Regions from separate parts of the Homo sapiens genome. Here region 1 is reported to be linked to region 2. The links are microRNA targets in miRTarBase. Many come from high-throughput screens and were not tested one by one. Region 2 holds a microRNA gene; the other region holds the end of a gene's coding sequence.
What was found. Region 2 holds the annotated microRNA hsa-miR-92b-3p (UAUUGCACUCGUCCCGGCCUCC, at 3,186-3,207, opposite strand). A microRNA usually pairs through its seed, bases 2 to 8, with sites in the 3' UTR of a target mRNA and lowers its output. Matches are read on the target gene's strand: a 7mer-m8 pairs with bases 2 to 8, a 7mer-A1 pairs with bases 2 to 7 and ends in A, and an 8mer does both.

Region 1 (5,077 bases), not on the chromosome of region 2:
GCCCCGGCCCCAGCACCCCGGCCCCCTCAGGACCTCATCGGCCTGCGACTGGCCCAGGAGAAGGCCTTAAAGCGGCAGCTGGAGGAGGAACAGAAGCTGAAGCCGGGAGGAGTGGGAGCCCCCTCCTCTTCCTCCCCCTCTCCCTCTCCGTCGGCCCGGCCAGGCCCGCCCCCGTCTGAGGAAGCCATGGATTTCCGGGAGGAGGGGCCTGAGTGCGAGACCCCGGGCATCTTCATCAGCATGGATGACGACTCGGGGCTGACCGAGGCCGCGCTGTTGGACTCTAGTCTCGAGGGCCCCCTACCCAAGGTAGGGAGAGCAGCCTCCGCTGCGAAGGAAGAAGCCGGATCTGGGCCGGGGTGAAGGTGGGGGAGGAGGGGCCATCAGGGGGCAGGGCCTGAAGGGGAGCGTGGAGGTGACCGCGCCCTCCACCCGGCTGCCCTTTCCTTCCCCGGTCACCAGGAGACGGCAGCGGGCGGGCTGACCTTGAAGGAGGAGCGGAGCCCCCAGACCCTCGCACCTGTTGGAGAAGATGCTATGAAGACTCCCAGCCCGGCTGCCGAGGACGCCAGGGAACCCGAGGCCAAGGGGAACAGCTGACGGGGCTCGAGGGGGAAAGGGGGTGGGACAGGGACTCGGGGCTGGGGGACGGGGCGGGGCTTGACCTGCGGGTGCTTTGCCTTAAAAAGAAATAAAAGATGTGAACTTGGGCAAGTTACTGAAAAGAAAAAAAAAAAGGGATGGCGGGCCTGGGGCGCGGGTGCCGTCTCGAGTCTGGCGCGACGTCCACCGTGGGGCTGCGCGGGATCGGGAGTGCGCGCCCAGAGCCTGCGCGGAACCCACCCTGGCCCGCTCCCCGCGCCCTCCACGGGTAACGGCCCCCTCTCTCGGTGCTCAGAAACCGGCGGTGTCGACAGGTGGCTCTCGCTTGGCCTCCTTGTCTGCAAGCCTTTCTCCTAGAGATCTGTGCCTCCTGGCGAACCATGGGAGACCTGCCGCCCTACCCTGAGCGCCCTGCCCAGCAGCCTCCGGGCCGGAGGACTTCTCAGGCCTCCCAGAGGCGGCACAGTCGGGACCAAGCTCAGGCCCTGGCAGCGGACCCCGAGGAGAGGCAGCAGATACCTCCAGACGCCCAGCGAAACGCCCCTGGTTGGTCACAGAGGGGCAGCCTGTCCCAACAGGAGAACTTGCTGATGCCCCAGGTCTTCCAGGCTGAGGAAGCCCGGCTGGGTGGCATGGAGTACCCATCTGTGAACACGGGCTTTCCCTCAGAGTTCCAGCCTCAGCCTTACTCTGATGAAAGCAGGATGCAGGTCGCCGAGCTCACCACCAGCCTAATGCTGCAGCGGCTCCAGCAGGGCCAAAGCAGCCTGTTCCAGCAACTGGACCCCACCTTCCAGGAGCCCCCAGTCAACCCCTTGGGCCAGTTCAACCTCTACCAGACAGACCAGTTCTCTGAAGGTGCCCAGCACGGGCCTTACATAAGGGATGACCCTGCCCTTCAGTTCTTGCCCTCTGAGCTGGGCTTCCCACACTACAGTGCCCAGGTGCCTGAGCCCGAGCCTCTGGAGCTGGCCGTGCAGAACGCCAAGGCCTACCTGCTGCAGACCAGCATCAATTGCGACCTCAGCCTGTGAGCAGGGGCTAGGAGTGGGGCGGGTGGGGGACCCAGGCAGGGAGGGGCCCCACCCGAAGTGCCTGCCTCAGTCAGTCAGACAAGGGATCATCCCTCATGGAAAACCAGTGACTCTAATTCAGCTGAGTCGGAATCAATGCCAACAACAGCTAGCATTCACTTCCCAGACATGTGCTGGCACTGCACACACTCACCTAATTCTCACCGGAGATGAGCACATCAGCTCATCCTACTTTACAGAGGAGGAGACCGAGACACAGAGAAGTTGGGTCGCTTACCCAAAACTACACAGCTAGGATATGGCAGAGTCAGGATTCCAGAACACGTGATTTGGCTCCCCAAGCCCTCTTGCTTTTTTTTTCCCCCAGACATAGTCTCACCCTGTCACCCAGGCTGGAGCACAGTGGCGTGGTCTTGGCTTAGGGCAACCTCTCCTTCCCAAGTTCAAGTGATTCTTCTGCTTCAGCCTCCCGAGTAGTTGGGGTTACAGGCGCGCTCCACTTCACCCAGCTAATTTTTGTATTTTTAGTAGAGGCAAGATTTCACCATGTTGCCCAGGCTAGTCTCAAACTCGACCTCAAGTGATCCGCCCATCTCAGCCTCCCAAAGTGCTAGGATTGCAGGCATGAACCACCGTGCCCAGCCCTCCTGAGACCCTCTTATCCTGCAACTAAACCTCCCTGCCTGAGGAAGATACTTGCCAAAGCCACTTAGCTACAGTCACAAAACACTGCTCTCAGCCTCCATTAGATACCCAGGATGCTCTCATTCTAGGAGAGTGGACAAGAAACAGAAAAAGTGATAAACTGAAGCTAAGGACTCAGGTGAAAAATAAGGGAGGCTAAGAGGGCTAGGGAACACATGAAATAGTGGGGGTCCAACCAGGTGCGGTGGCTCACGCCTGTTATCCCAGCACTTGAGGAGGCCAAGACGGGCGGATCACCTGAGGTCAGGAGTTCGAGACCAGCCTTGCCAACATGGCGAAACCCTGTCTCTACTAAAAAATACAAAAATTATCAGGGCATGGTAGCATGGGCCTGTAATCCCAGCTCCTCGGGAGGTTGAGGCAGGAGAATCACTTGAACCCGGGCGGCAGAGGTTGCAGTGAGCCGAGATCGTGCCACTGCACTCCAGCCTGGGCAACAGAGCGAGACTCCATCTCAAAAAAATAAATTGTGTGGGTCAGTGAAGGCCTGTCCAAGGAGGTGACATTTGATTAGGGCCCTGAAGGAGTCGAGGGAGAGCATCTTGCAGATGACCGGAGGAAGAGTGAGCCAGGCAGAGCACACTGCAAATGCAAAGGCTCTGAGGCTTGCTGTTTTTGAGGAGCAGTAAGGAGGGGCTGGTGTGTCTGGAACCAAGGGAGGAAGAGGGAGAGCGGGAGAAATGAGGTTGATGAAGTAATGGTTCTTATTAAAGCACAAAGCTGGCCGTGTCCCTCCAATGCTCAGAACCTGCTATGGCTCCCCATTGCCCACAGGGGGAAGCTCAGACTCCTCACCACAACCTTCAAGGCTCCTGGCCTGAGACATATAAGGCCTTGCTCATGCCTGTGATCCCAGCACTTTGGGAGGCTGAGGCAGACAGATAACTCGAAGTCAGGAGTTCAAGACCAGCCTGGCCAACATGGCAAAACCCTGTCTCTACTAAAAATACAAAAAGTTAGCCAGGCGTGGTGGCACACGCCTGTGATCTCAGCTACTCGGGAGGCTGAGGCAGGAGAATCACTTGAACCGGGAGGCAGAGGCTGCAGTGAGCCAAGATCGTGCCAGTGCACTCCAGCCTGAGCAACAGAGCGAGACTCTGTCTCAAACAAACCAACAAACAAAAGGCCTTACGTGGTTCAGCCCCTGGCCGCTGACCAAACTTGATTTCTAGTCACTACCTGCTCCTTCCTCGGATCCTAGAATCTAGTCAGAATTAACCTCTGGCTATTCCCCAAGTGCCAGCTCTTCAGAGCTTCAGGCTCTCTTCCTGAGAAGCCCTAGCCAAAGTCTCACCTCTTCTTACCCTTCCCAACTTCCATGATGGCCCAACACCACACCCAAGACTGCCAACAAAACAGCTTCCGCAAAGCAAAAGGTGACACATACATGCTTGGAAATCAGACCAACTTGGTTTCAAAGGCTGACTGTGGCCGGGCCTGGTGGCTCACGCCTGTAATCCCAGCAGTTGGGGAGGCTGAGGCAGGCAGATCACTTGAGTCCAGGAGTTTGAGACCAGCCTGGGCAACATGGCAAAACCCCATCTCTACAAAAAGTACAAAAATTAGCCAGGCATGTTGGCACACGTGTAATCCCAGCTCTGGGGAGTCTGAGGTGGGAGAATCACTTGAACCCGGGAACCAGAGGTTGCAGTGAGCCAAGACCGAGCCACTGCACTCCAGCCTGAGTGACAAAGTGAGACCCTGTCTCAAAAAAAAAATACAAAAAATACAAATGTTGGCCAGGCACGGTGGTTCACACCTGTTAACCCAGCACTTTAGGAGGCCAAGACGGGCGGATCACCTGAGGTCAGGAGTTCGAGACCAGCCTGGCCAACATAGTGAAACCCCGTCTCTACTAAAAATACAAAAATTAGCCGGGGATGGTGGTGTGCACCTGTAGTCCCAGCTACTCAGGAGGCCGAGGCAGGAGAATCACTTGAACCCAGGAACCCAGGAGGCAGAGGTTGTGGTGAGCCGAAATCACACCACTGCACTCCAGCCTGGGCAACAAAGCAAAACTCTGTCTCTAATAATAATAATAATAATAATAATAATAATAATAATAATAATAATACAAATGTTGGCCAGGTGCGGTGGCTCACGCCTGTAATCCCAACACTTTGGGAGGCGGAAGAAGGTGGATCACCTGAGGTCAGGAGTTTGAGACCAGCCTGGCCACCATGGCGAAACCCTCTACAAAAAATACAAAAAAATTAGCGGGACATGGTGGTGCATGCCTGTAATCCCAGCTACTTGGGAGGCTGAGGCAGGAAAATCGCTTGAACCCAGGAGACAGAGACTGCAGCGAGCTGAGGTCGTGCCACTGCACTCCAGCCTGGGCAACACAGCGAGACCTCCTCTGAAAAATAAATTAAAAAAATAAAATTGCAAACCTTCTCCCATCCCTGGCACCCCCAGGCCCCATTCAGTACTATATGTGTCACCCTAAAAATTACCACCCCATGCCTGACACACTGTATATATTTTGCTCGTTTGATTAGTGTCTGTTTCCACCATAAGAATGTCGGCAAGGCGCGGTGGCTCACGCCTGTAATCCCAGCACTTTGGGAGGCTGAGGCGGGCAGATCACGAGGTCAGGAGTTCGAGACCAGCCTGACCAACATGGTGAAACCCTGTCTCTACTAAAAATCCAAAAAGTAACCAGGCGTGGTGGCGGGCGCCTATAATCCCAGCTACTCGGGAGGCTGAGGCAGGAGAATTATTTGAACCCGGGA
Region 2 (5,000 bases):
CCTGGTACCCAATCCCAATCAGAAGGACTCAGATGGTAAGCCTGCGGACCCAGAGCACGTTAGACTGGTGTTGCCTTTGCCCAGGTGGAGGCAGCAAGCCCTGTTGGGAAGTGAGGAAGGGCAAGGTGGGGAAAGATGTCAGGAATGCAGGCCCAACAGATGGTATTGTTGCCTAATGGCAGTGGCCAGGGCCTTCCTGAGCACCCAGCCTCACTCTGCCCAGGCAATGGCGTTGGTGATGTGTGTGAGGATGACTTTGACAATGATGCTGTGGTCGACCCCCTGGATGTGTGTCCTGAAAGTGCAGAGGTAACGCTTACGGATTTTCGGGCCTATCAGACCGTCGTCCTGGATCCTGAGGGTGATGCTCAGATTGACCCAAACTGGGTTGTGCTCAACCAGGTAACTCGGGGCAGTGGGCTGGGCAGGTGCTATCAGACAGGGCTACTGGGACGGGGGGCCTGGGAGGGATAGCACACCTGCATCACAGCTTTTTCTTTACTATACAACCCCAGGGCATGGAAATCGTTCAGACCATGAACAGTGACCCTGGCTTGGCAGTTGGTATGTAAGGGATATGCAGTTCAATCACTTCCAAATGGAGGAATCCTATAGGGGCAGAGGGTAGGGGAGGAAACAGACAGGGAGAATGGGCAAAGTGGCGAGAGAGAAGGCAGTGGCACAAGCTGGCCACATACATAGCAGGCATCCCTTCCCAACTTTACCCCATGATGGGCCGCCAGTAGCTTTGCTGCCCCTGACCTTTATCCCACCCCCACCCCAGGATACACGGCCTTCAATGGTGTGGACTTTGAAGGCACCTTCCATGTGAACACAGTGACTGATGATGACTACGCAGGCTTTCTCTTCAGTTATCAAGACAGTGGCCGCTTCTACGTAGTCATGTGGAAGCAGACCGAGCAGACCTACTGGCAGGCTACACCCTTCCGGGCGGTTGCCCAGCCCGGGCTGCAGCTCAAGGTCCCCAGCTGCTCAGATTCCGCAACCCAGGGCCCTTTCCCAAAGCTCTCCTCTGCAGCCCCAGGGCCTCCCCCACTGCTTGACTGGGAACCCTCTTACCCAGACATCTGGCTTGGAGGCCGGCTCTCTGGGGCCCCAGGGCATTTTCATGACCGCCTTGAATCCCTTTCCCACCTGCACTTACCGACCTGTTGTCTCCCCTCACTCCAGTTCTGCAGTTGACCCACTGTCTTTGCCAATGTCTCCTAGGCAGTGACATCAGTGTCTGGCCCAGGTGAGCACCTCCGAAATGCCCTGTGGCATACTGGCCACACCCCTGATCAGGTACGACTGCTGTGGACAGACCCACGAAATGTGGGCTGGCGGGACAAGACCTCCTATCGCTGGCAGCTTCTGCACCGGCCTCAAGTTGGCTACATTCGGTAAGGAGAGGGGCTGAGCCCACCTGTGGGACTCAGGCCGGGCCTGTCCTTCCTCTTTAGCTGGGATTCACCAGTGACCTCTCCATGGGTGGGAACTGCAGCCACTTCTCTCCATCACCCTTCTCACCACGGACACAAGCACCTATGAGTGATGTTGGTGAAGTCACTCCTCCATGACCCATTTTCCCGTCTGTAAAATGAGGGCATTGGGTTAGATGCCCTTTACAGTTCTCCAGAAGCCTCCAAACCCAGGCCAATCTGTGAAGGGGCACATCACATCTGGTCCCTTAGTTGGTATGACCTGGAACCTGTCTTATCAACGTGGATAGGGATCATCTGACCTGGAAGGCATCATCATTTACAGAAGAGAAAATCAAGGCCCTGACTTCACAGGCCTCGGTTCAACACTTTGTCCACAACTTTGCATTTCTCTCCAACAAGTAGCCCTAGTTGGTGGAGATGAACAGGAAGGGAGGGGAAATGGGTCTGCTTAGAGGCTGGACTTTCCATGGCCAAGAGCCCAGAGTCCAGGAACCTGGGTTGGTTCCCCTTTAAGGTGCCTGGGGCTGTGGGGTGCCAGGACAGGGGATAAAAGGGGGTGGACTAGAGCCTGGGAAGCGGGTGACTTCACCCCCCAGCCCATTGTGCTTATTGTCATGGCAACCCAATCCTCGCTTGGAATGCGGCTGGTGCTTTGAGATGCAAAAGGAGCTGGACAAAGAGCTAGGGGCCCCAGGCCTGAGAAAAGCACCCCCCTTCCCTCTCCTTCCTGCCTCCCTTTCCCTCCCTCCCTTCTCTCTCAGGCCTGGTGAGCTCAAGGGGGGCTGGGGAAAAGCAAGGCCCCAGGCATGGTGGCACAGTGCCCACTGGCACCCTAGCACCAATGGATACTCCTATCCTGGAATCCTGGACAGGGTGAAGCTCTATGAGGGACCCCAGCTTGTGGCGGATTCTGGGGTGATCATTGACACATCCATGCGAGGGGGGCGTCTTGGTGTATTCTGCTTCTCCCAAGAAAACATAATTTGGTCCAATCTCCAGTATCGATGCAATGGTGAGGTGGCTGATTGAGATCAACCTAATCCTTCATGCCTTGTGGGAGAGCCACATCCTCTGACCTTACTTATTTCCCCTTCTTCAGACACAGTGCCTGAGGACTTTGAGCCATTCCGGAGGCAGCTGCTCCAGGGAAGGGTGTGAGGAGGAGGCCACCAGATTCAGAATTCAGAATTTTAGACCCTTTGGCCTTGGGGTCCATCCTGGAGACCCTGAGGTCTAAGCTACAGCCCCTCAGCCAACCACAGACCCTTCTCTGGCTCCCAAAAGGAGTTCAGTCCCAGAGGGGTGGTCACCCCACCCTTCAGGGGATGAGAAGTTTTCAAGGGGTATTACTCAGGCACTAACCCCAGGAAAGATGACAGCACATTGCCATAAAGTTTTGGTTGTTTTCTAAGCCAGTGCAACTGCTTATTTTAGGGATTTTCCGGGATAGGGTGGGGAAGTGGAAGGAATCGGCGAGTAGAAGAGAAAGCCTGGGAGGGTGGAAGTTAGGGATCTAGGGGAAGTTTGGCTGATTTGGGGATGCGGGTGGGGGAGGTGCTGGATGGAGTTAAGTGAAGGATAGGGTGCCTGAGGGAGGATGCCCGAAGTCCTCCCAGACCCACTTACTCACGGTGGCAGCGGCGACACTCCAGTCTATCAAAGATCCGCCGGGATGGAGAGCCAGGAGGGCGGGGGCTGCCCCGCTAGGGGTAGCGGGGAGGCCGGGGGGCCGGGGGGGCCGGAGGCCGGGACGAGTGCAATATTGGCGGGGGAAAAAACAACACTGCACCGCGTCCCGTCCCTCCCGCCCGCCCGGGGCCCGGGATCCCGCTCCCCACCGCCTGAAGCCGGCCCGACCCGGGAACCCGGGGCGCGCTGGGGAGTTGGGTTCACCTTGGAGGCCAGAGAGACTTGGCGCCCGGAAGGCAAAGGGAATGGCAAGGGGGAGGGGGGAGGGAGAACGGGAGTTTGCGGAGTCCCAGAAGGCCGCTTTCCGACGCCCGGGCGTTGCGCGCGCTTGCTCTTTAAGTACTCAGACTGCGCGGCGCGGAGCCGTCGCCATGGTGACGCGTGTCCCAGCAACCGAACTGAATGGCTGTTGCTTGGCAATGCCGGGAGTTGAGGTTTGGGGCCGCCCACCTAGCTACTCGTGTTTTCTCCGGCCTGCGAGTTGGGGGGCTCCCCGCCTCCCCGGCCCGCGCTCCCGGGCGCGCTGACGTCAGATGTCCCCACCCCGCCCAGCGCCTGCCCCAGGGTCTCGCCGCACACAAAGCTGCGCCTCGGGCGCCGCGCGGCGCGCGGGCGAGAGCTGTGGTCTCTCGCCTGCTGATCTGATGCGCTCCAATCCCGTGCCTCGCCGAAGTGTTTTTAAAGTGTTCTTTCCAACCTGTGTCTTTGGGGCTGAGAACTGTTTTCTGAATACAGGCGGAACTGCTTCCGTCGGCCTAGAGCGCAGCCTGCGACTGCGGGACCCAAGTTCCACGTGCTGCCGCGGCCTGGGATAGCTTCCTCCCCTCGTGCACTGCTGCCGCACACACCTCTTGGCTGTCGCGCATTACGCACCTCACGTGTGCTTTTGCCCCCCGCTACGTGCCTACCTGTCCCCAATACCACTCTGCTCCCCAAAGGATAGTTCTGTGTCCGTAAATCCCATTCTGTCACCCCACCTACTCTCTGCCCCCCCCTTTTTTGTTTTGAGACGGAGTCTTGCTCTGTCGCCCAGGCTGGAGTGCAATGGCGCGATCTCGGCTCACTGCAACCTCCGCCTCCCGGGTTCAAGCGATTCTCCTGCCTCAGCCTCCTGAGTAGCTGGGGTTACAGCGCCCGCCACCACGCTCGGCTAATTTTTGTAGTTTTTAGTAGAGACGAGGTTTCACCATCTTGGCCAGGCTGGTCTTGAACCCCTGACCTTGTGATCCACTCGCCTCGGCCTTCCAAAGTGTTGGGATTACGGGCGTGAGCCACCGTGCCACGCCCGATCTGCCTCTTAAGTACATAACGGCCCACACAGAACGTGTCCAACTCCCCCGCCCACGTTCCAACGTCCTCTCCCACATACCTCGGTGCCCCTTCCACATACCTCAGGACCCCACCCGCTTAGCTCCATTTCCTCCAGACGCCACCACCACGCGTCCCGGAGTGCCCCCTCCTAAAGCTCCCAGCCGTCCACCATGCTGTGCGTTCCTCCCTCCCTGGCCACGGCAGTGACCCTTCTCTCCCGGGCCCTGCTTCCCTCTCGCGGGCTCTCGCTGCCTCACTTAGGCAGCGCTGCCCTTACTCCTCTCCGCCCGGTCCGAGCGGCCCCTCAGCTTGCGCGGCCCAGCCCCGCAAGGCTCCCGGTGACCACTAGAGGGCGGGAGGAGCTCCTGGCCAGTGGTGGAGAGTGGCAAGGAAGGACCCTAGGGTTCATCGGAGCCCAGGTTTACTCCCTTAAGTGGAAATTTCTTCCCCCACTCCCTCCTTGGCTTTCTCCAAGGAGGGAACCCAGGCTGCTGGAAAGTCCGGCTGGGGCGGGGACTGTGGGTTTCAGGGTAGAACTGCGTGTGGAACGGGACA

Region 1: miRTarBase lists SYMPK as a target of hsa-miR-92b-3p. The part of its 3' UTR that is shown has no 7-base or 8-base seed match.

Annotation. Positions count from the first base shown.
Region 1 is chr19:45,811,083-45,816,159 of GRCh38, reverse strand. It overlaps SYMPK (symplekin scaffold protein), which reads left to right. Exons shown (of 27, transcript NM_004819.3): 26 at 1-309; 27 at 463-750. The coding sequence ends at 600. RSPH6A (radial spoke head 6 homolog A) reads left to right here and starts at 852. Exons shown (of 6, transcript NM_030785.4): 1 at 852-1,633. The coding sequence starts at 984. RefSeq lists an enhancer at 5,040-5,077.
Region 2 is chr1:155,193,444-155,198,443 of GRCh38, reverse strand. It overlaps MIR92B (microRNA 92b), which reads right to left and starts at 3,267; the gene lies at 3,172-3,267. THBS3 (thrombospondin 3) reads left to right here. Exons shown (of 23, transcript NM_007112.5): 17 at 1-35; 18 at 224-402; 19 at 516-564; 20 at 785-981; 21 at 1,231-1,403; 22 at 2,318-2,457; 23 at 2,545-2,856. The coding sequence ends at 2,603. It overlaps THBS3-AS1 (THBS3 antisense RNA 1), which reads right to left and starts at 3,447. Exons shown (of 6, transcript NR_183238.1): 1 at 3,072-3,447; 2 at 1,427-1,593; 3 at 1-100. RefSeq lists enhancers at 607-1,442, 1,443-2,278 and a silencer at 3,435-3,764.